Linked DNA regions of Homo sapiens: region 2 is linked to region 1. Evidence: fine-mapped expression QTL. A gene starts in region 1. The other region holds a variant in brackets. All regions are shown on one strand. Distances are between the middles of the regions.

Region 1 (2,806 bases):
ATGCCAAAGAGGTGAACTACTACAGGCATGGACATTTGAGGAGGATTTCTAGTTGTCTCTGGCAAGCACCCAGTAAAGTGCCTGATAAGAGCCCAACACATATTTATTGAGTTGAGCTGCATGTCTGGCCTGAGTCACCCTCAGGCCTGACTTCAGATGCTGTAAGTTATTTGAAGAGTCTTCTTAATAAGTTGATCTCTGCAGTGTCTTTTCTCTTCATAAACTAACCCTAGTTCTAGTTTTTTCTCTAAGGTCTTGCTTGCTGCCTTTAATCATTTCCATGGCTGCCCTCTGAACCATTCCCATGTTCTCCGTGTCCTTTTCTGTAACAGCTGTGAGGCACAGATGTTAACGGCTGCTTTCTGACCCTCAGACTGGTGCTGAGCTTATGAGACTTTTAGGGACTTAACACTGACTCAACACTAGCTCTCAGTTTCATGGCCACCCTCATTGTGTGTGTGTGTGTGTGTGTGTGTGTGTGTGTGTGTGTGTGTGCGCTTTTCCATTCCCCTTATGAAACATCTCCTGCCCCTAACTTACTATGGGAACGTTCCTCCATGATCTCTTTCCATCCTCCCTTTCCTGTTTGCTCACTTCTTTTCTTGCTCATCTTGGAGACTGTGCAATCCCAGATTAACTACAAACAGAGAAGAGCTGGTGATAGCTCCAGAGCTCAGAGAAAGGAGGTCTCTTTACAAGAAGTCTGGCTCTCAAAGGTAAGCTCGGTCTTCTTGACCTGCCTTTTGCCATCTACCTCTCTCTTTGGATCTCCTGCCCCTGGGTCCCTGCTTGCCCTGCATTCTCCATACTCACGGAGAATCAGGACCTCCAGAACAGCCCAGCGTGGGCTTGGTCAGGAATGATCCAGGCTCTGAAGGGTTAAGGCTGGAGCCTGGATGGATGGAGAGGGTTATTAGTTATCGTTTGGAGAGTGGAGTGAAGGCTCCTCCCCTGTTGCCTACCCGCCCCTTTCACATGATCTCTGACTATAGCTGTGGAAGCGGGGAGAAGATAAAGGAGGGAAAAAAAAGTTCACAAAATAATTTAGAAAGTCCTTATAAATGCTTGTGTTTTCATTTAGCAGCATGAATCCAGGACAGCAACAGACCCTCAGAGGCAGCAGCCAACTGGGAATTGAGTGGAAAAAAATAGGAATCCTGGATTCTGGCAGTTTCCAGTTGTTTTCTTGGTGGGGGGAGCCGTGGTGGGAAGGGATTAAATCAAATCTTTCGGGGGAGAGCTCAGCTCTAGGCTTTCATGGTCAAAATACTAAAGGTCAGCTCCGCGTGTGTGCCCCAACTGTCCTGGAAGCTTCAATTGGAAAACTCCAAACTTTAAGTTTTGCTTATAGCTTCAGCTCAAGTAAGAAAAATGAGGTGTGGGGTAGGCGGCGGGGGGGTGGGGATCACAGGAAGGGGATCAAGTCTTAGATGGAGGGGAAGGAAGTGGAGATGGATATGGGTGGGAATAAGGCAGAAGGGAGCGGTGTCTTTAAGTCTGTCCTATGGTTATACATATTTTTTCTTCTATGAATGGGTTTTGCTGTAAATTATAGCTTTGCCCATAGTCCCTTGGGTCAAAAGAAATAGTCTCCAAACAGAAAACAGCTCTGATTGGTGACTTTCCTTCTTCCCTCCCCAACCCCCTTCCTAATTGAAACCAAATGTGCAATATATTGGATGCTGGGATCCCTGGCGCTTTCCCAGGAATCCTCAGAATGTGAGGTTTCTCTCAAAGGCATCTTGCATCAGCCTGTGGATGTATGCCTACCACCGGGCTCCTTCACCAGCAAAGTGGAAAAAGAAGCGTTTCACAACAAATTCTTCTTTTTGGGTTGGGGAAACGCAGTGGATTATAGCTCTGTTTTCTTCTTTCCAAAACTGTGCACCCCTGGATGAAAGTAAGTTATGTGGGTCTTTTTTCTTTATTATTTTTTCTTTTTTGAAAATGAAAGCTCCGCATATACTTCTTTTGGTGTTTCAGGAAAAGTTTTAAAAAGGAAACAGAAGGGCGTTTTAAGTCAGACAAGGAAGGGAACGTAATGAGGCACCACAGACTCGAGAAATCAGATCCCATGTTTTTGGGGGTCTGGATTTATGCTATGAAGGGAAGAATAAAGAGCAGTAATAACCAAAGAAGCCTGAAGCAAAATAAATGAATCTATAGCAGCTGCAAGATACAATAAACAGTGTTAGCAGAGTTGAAATTGTTGGCAGGCAAGACAGGCCGATTGCAGAGTTAGTTTCAGGATGAAGAAGGCAGAGCAGGAGAGCTAAGTTTTTAGACATTTAGTAGTGGTGTTAGAAGGTCCTGAGTTTTGGAGATAGTGTAGACCAAGCACTTTTTGTTTTTCAGGGGAGTTGCTGATTTACTTGTGAGAAGGGTAACTTTGGATGAGGGGTGGCTTCCCCCTGAGATTTGGGGTGGCTAGGGGGAGGCTGGGTGCATGGAAGATTTTTCAGTTGTGACAGTGAAATACAGCTTCCCAGACTCATCTCCTCGCTGGCTCTGGGTGCCTTTCCCTTTGTTATGGAATGACTGGGGCTGTTTTCATTTGGGACCTCTGAGTCCTGGCCTAGGTTCAAGAGTCCCATCCAAAGGGAAAGAGAACTGTTCCCAGTGGCTGAAACTCTCAGACCAGCCATTTGAGGCAAGAGTTCGTACTGTTCAAGCCAGTAGGGGGTTCAGCACCATTTTGCCGATCATTGGCTTCCTACAACACAGAGTTAAGAGTCCTGAAAAGGGCCTTAGGCCTCTCATCTAACCCCTTCGCTCCACAGATGTAAAAAATGATAGGAAGGGGACC
Region 2 (2,806 bases), 150 kb after region 1:
TCAAACGTGTGACTGGCCATTGCACTCCAGGCTGGGCAACATAATGAGACCCCATTTCTCAAAGGAAAAAATATTTAATAATAAATAATATCATCCACTTCACAGTGTGGTTGTCTGTATTGAGTAGAAAATGTGAGTAGTCAATGCATGCTATTTACACCTGAATCTCATTGCTGTCACTTGTTAAAGTCTATCTTTCAACACTGTGATTATCACTGAACTGGTAAATGAGAGTCCTGGATTCACTGCAGGCACTTAAACTAGATTCCTCTATCTCTAACATAAAAACCATTGACTTCCCATTCAGATTTTGCCTTTCTCAGGAGCATTTTCCCAAGGCTACCCTAGAGTTGAAAGGTTGACCTAACACTCAGTTGCAGAGTCAAATAGCTTATGGCTGCGTTTTTTTCAGCTCTTGGATCTCATCCCCAGAGAAACAGAACCAAGCTGAGATCATGAGAATGAAAGAATGGGCTGTTTCTAAATACTCCATGCACATCTTGGCATTTTCAGAATTCCTTGCCTGTGGTGGGGGAAGGGGTATAGCTGCAGATTATGAAATTTAACAGGGTGTTGTTGTGCACAGGTTATTCTGATTTCCCATTCTTTTCTTTACTTAAATAGGGCAAGTTCACTACAGCAAGTGATGTGTGGGCCTTTGGGGTTACTTTGTGGGAGACTTTCACCTTTTGTCAAGAACAGCCCTATTCCCAGCTGTCAGATGAACAGGTTATTGAGAATACTGGAGAGTTCTTCCGAGACCAAGGGAGGCAGGTAAGAACTGTTGGGGATGAATGGATGTGGACCTGTGTACCTTGAAGGATGGAGAATGGCAAGTCCTGCCTTAGCAGGAGTGGGCCGAGATGGAAGACAGACTATCCAGGTGTTAGTCTTTGTCACTAACTATCCAGATGATGTGAAAGACCAGTATCCTCCCCAGGCATCCATACACTTTGCTTTATCTATGTGTCAACTCATTGACTCTTGGAGAGCATAAAGGGTCATGTCAGGTTTCTCCCCAGCTCAAAGGTAGCAGGAAACAAAGTCCTATCTCTCATGATTTATCTATTTCTTGATCTAGACCATGTGGTTTTTCTTCTGGGTCAAAAAATAAAAGTGTAAAAGGGATGTATTAGCATTCATTAAAAATATAGCTTAGTATAAGAAATGGGGTTGGTTTTGACTATCTAGCAATGTTTCTAGACTTGGATGTCTGAAAATGGGCAGATATATCCTAAACTTGTTGCTCTTGGAAGGCATCTCTGGGCCCAGTATTGTGACATCTCAGGACTCAGGGAAAGATGAGTTCCCAAGCTCCCCAGGAGTCTCAATTCCTAGCCAAGATACTCCAAG[C/CT]TTTTTTTTGGGTGGCTTAGATTTAAAATTCCTGTGAGATCTGGAATTTAAAGCTTGCCAGTAACTACAGCACCGCACTTCCCCAAAGGGGCCTGGCAACAGCATACCCTTGGATTATGGTATCTTTACCAGGAAAAGGATAATAGCTGGGGGAAGGATCTTGCAGACAATAAAAAGTGGATCTTCTGTGGCTTGAACAGATCCAAGCAAGCCAAAGATAGATAAGGTATTGACAAGAGATAATACATTATGCATATTAAAAATAAGAGAGGGGTCTGAGAATTTAATTGTATCTTGATACTCTGTAAATATTTTGGCAGCAGGGAGTCTAAATTAGCTATCTTGGTTATGAGGCAATTTGCCTTCTTACTATAGTCAAAGGAAAATTTACTCCTGAGTACATGAGATAAGTGAGTGGGCCAAAGAAAAATGTTGTTTTCTGCCTCTGCCATGATCGGCTCAGCCAAGATGAACTTCAATATGGGTTGCCCATAAATGGAAGATTTGGTCTCTTTTTGGTTGTTTCATCTTTTGCATGAAGGTAGGGACCACATAATGGCCCATCAAAAAATTCTGCTGCAGACAACTGCAGAAGACAAATGGAACAGCTTAGAAAAGGGCTGATATGATTCAGAACTTTCACGAGTAGGAAAAATGGACACTACACCCATTTCAGTTATCAAGTTCAAGAAAGTGGGCAGGGGGCAAATCAAACCATGATGCAAAGATACTTCCCTTTCCCCCGTCTTTGTAATATTCTCTCTCTCTCTCTCTTTTGTTTTCCTTTATTTTTGTTCCCAAAGACTTACCTCCCTCAACCAGCCATTTGTCCTGACTCTGTGTATAAGCTGATGCTCAGCTGCTGGAGAAGAGATACGAAGAACCGTCCCTCATTCCAAGAAATCCACCTTCTGCTCCTTCAACAAGGCGACGAGTGATGCTGTCAGTGCCTGGCCATGTTCCTACGGCTCAGGTCCTCCCTACAAGACCTACCACTCACCCATGCCTATGCCACTCCATCTGGACATTTAATGAAACTGAGAGACAGAGGCTTGTTTGCTTTGCCCTCTTTTCCTGGTCACCCCCACTCCCTACCCCTGACTCATATACACTTTTTTTTTTTTTTACATTAAAGAACTAAAAAAGGAAAAAAAAAAGCCTAGGGCAGATACAATCTAGTAAAAGAAAATCTTTGATATACCAAAGTGTTGGATAACAAAGGCTAGAAAATTCAGATAATTTATAAAGGTTAACTATACTTGTGCTTATAAATGTGCAGATTCTACAATATTTTTCCATGTCATTCTAAAAGAATCTTCAGAAAGAAAAACTTGAAGAATACTAATGTCTTGGGAAACATGAGATTAAGTTTAGGGAAAACACTTGATAGATGTGGAGAATCTGAGGACTCAGAATTCAGCAACTAATCACAGGTGGTTTTCTAATTTGGCCT

Alleles and levels. Alleles are on the strand shown, and positions count from the first base shown. SD is a standard deviation of normalised expression in the study named.
For the expression in cerebral cortex of the gene that starts at base 1,733 in region 1, allele C in region 2 goes with a higher level than allele CT (moderate effect, 0.58 SD a copy in GTEx).

The links. PIP is the estimated chance that this variant, and not a neighbour inherited with it, causes the effect.
Region 2: its variant is fine-mapped to the expression of DDR2 in cerebral cortex (GTEx, PIP 0.96).

The regions. Positions count from the first base shown.
Region 1 is chr1:162,630,732-162,633,537 of GRCh38, forward strand. DDR2 (discoidin domain receptor tyrosine kinase 2) reads left to right here and starts at 1,733. Exons shown (of 18, transcript NM_006182.4): 1 at 1,733-1,900. RefSeq lists enhancers at 11-190, 481-580.
Region 2 is chr1:162,777,956-162,780,761 of GRCh38, forward strand. It overlaps DDR2 (discoidin domain receptor tyrosine kinase 2), which reads left to right. Exons shown (of 18, transcript NM_006182.4): 17 at 625-774; 18 at 2,157-2,806. The coding sequence ends at 2,291. It also overlaps the pseudogene RN7SL861P. Among named protein-coding and RNA genes, the nearest start is that of HSD17B7, 11 kb to the right of the region's middle. The variant C/CT (reference allele first, on the strand shown) is at 1,354.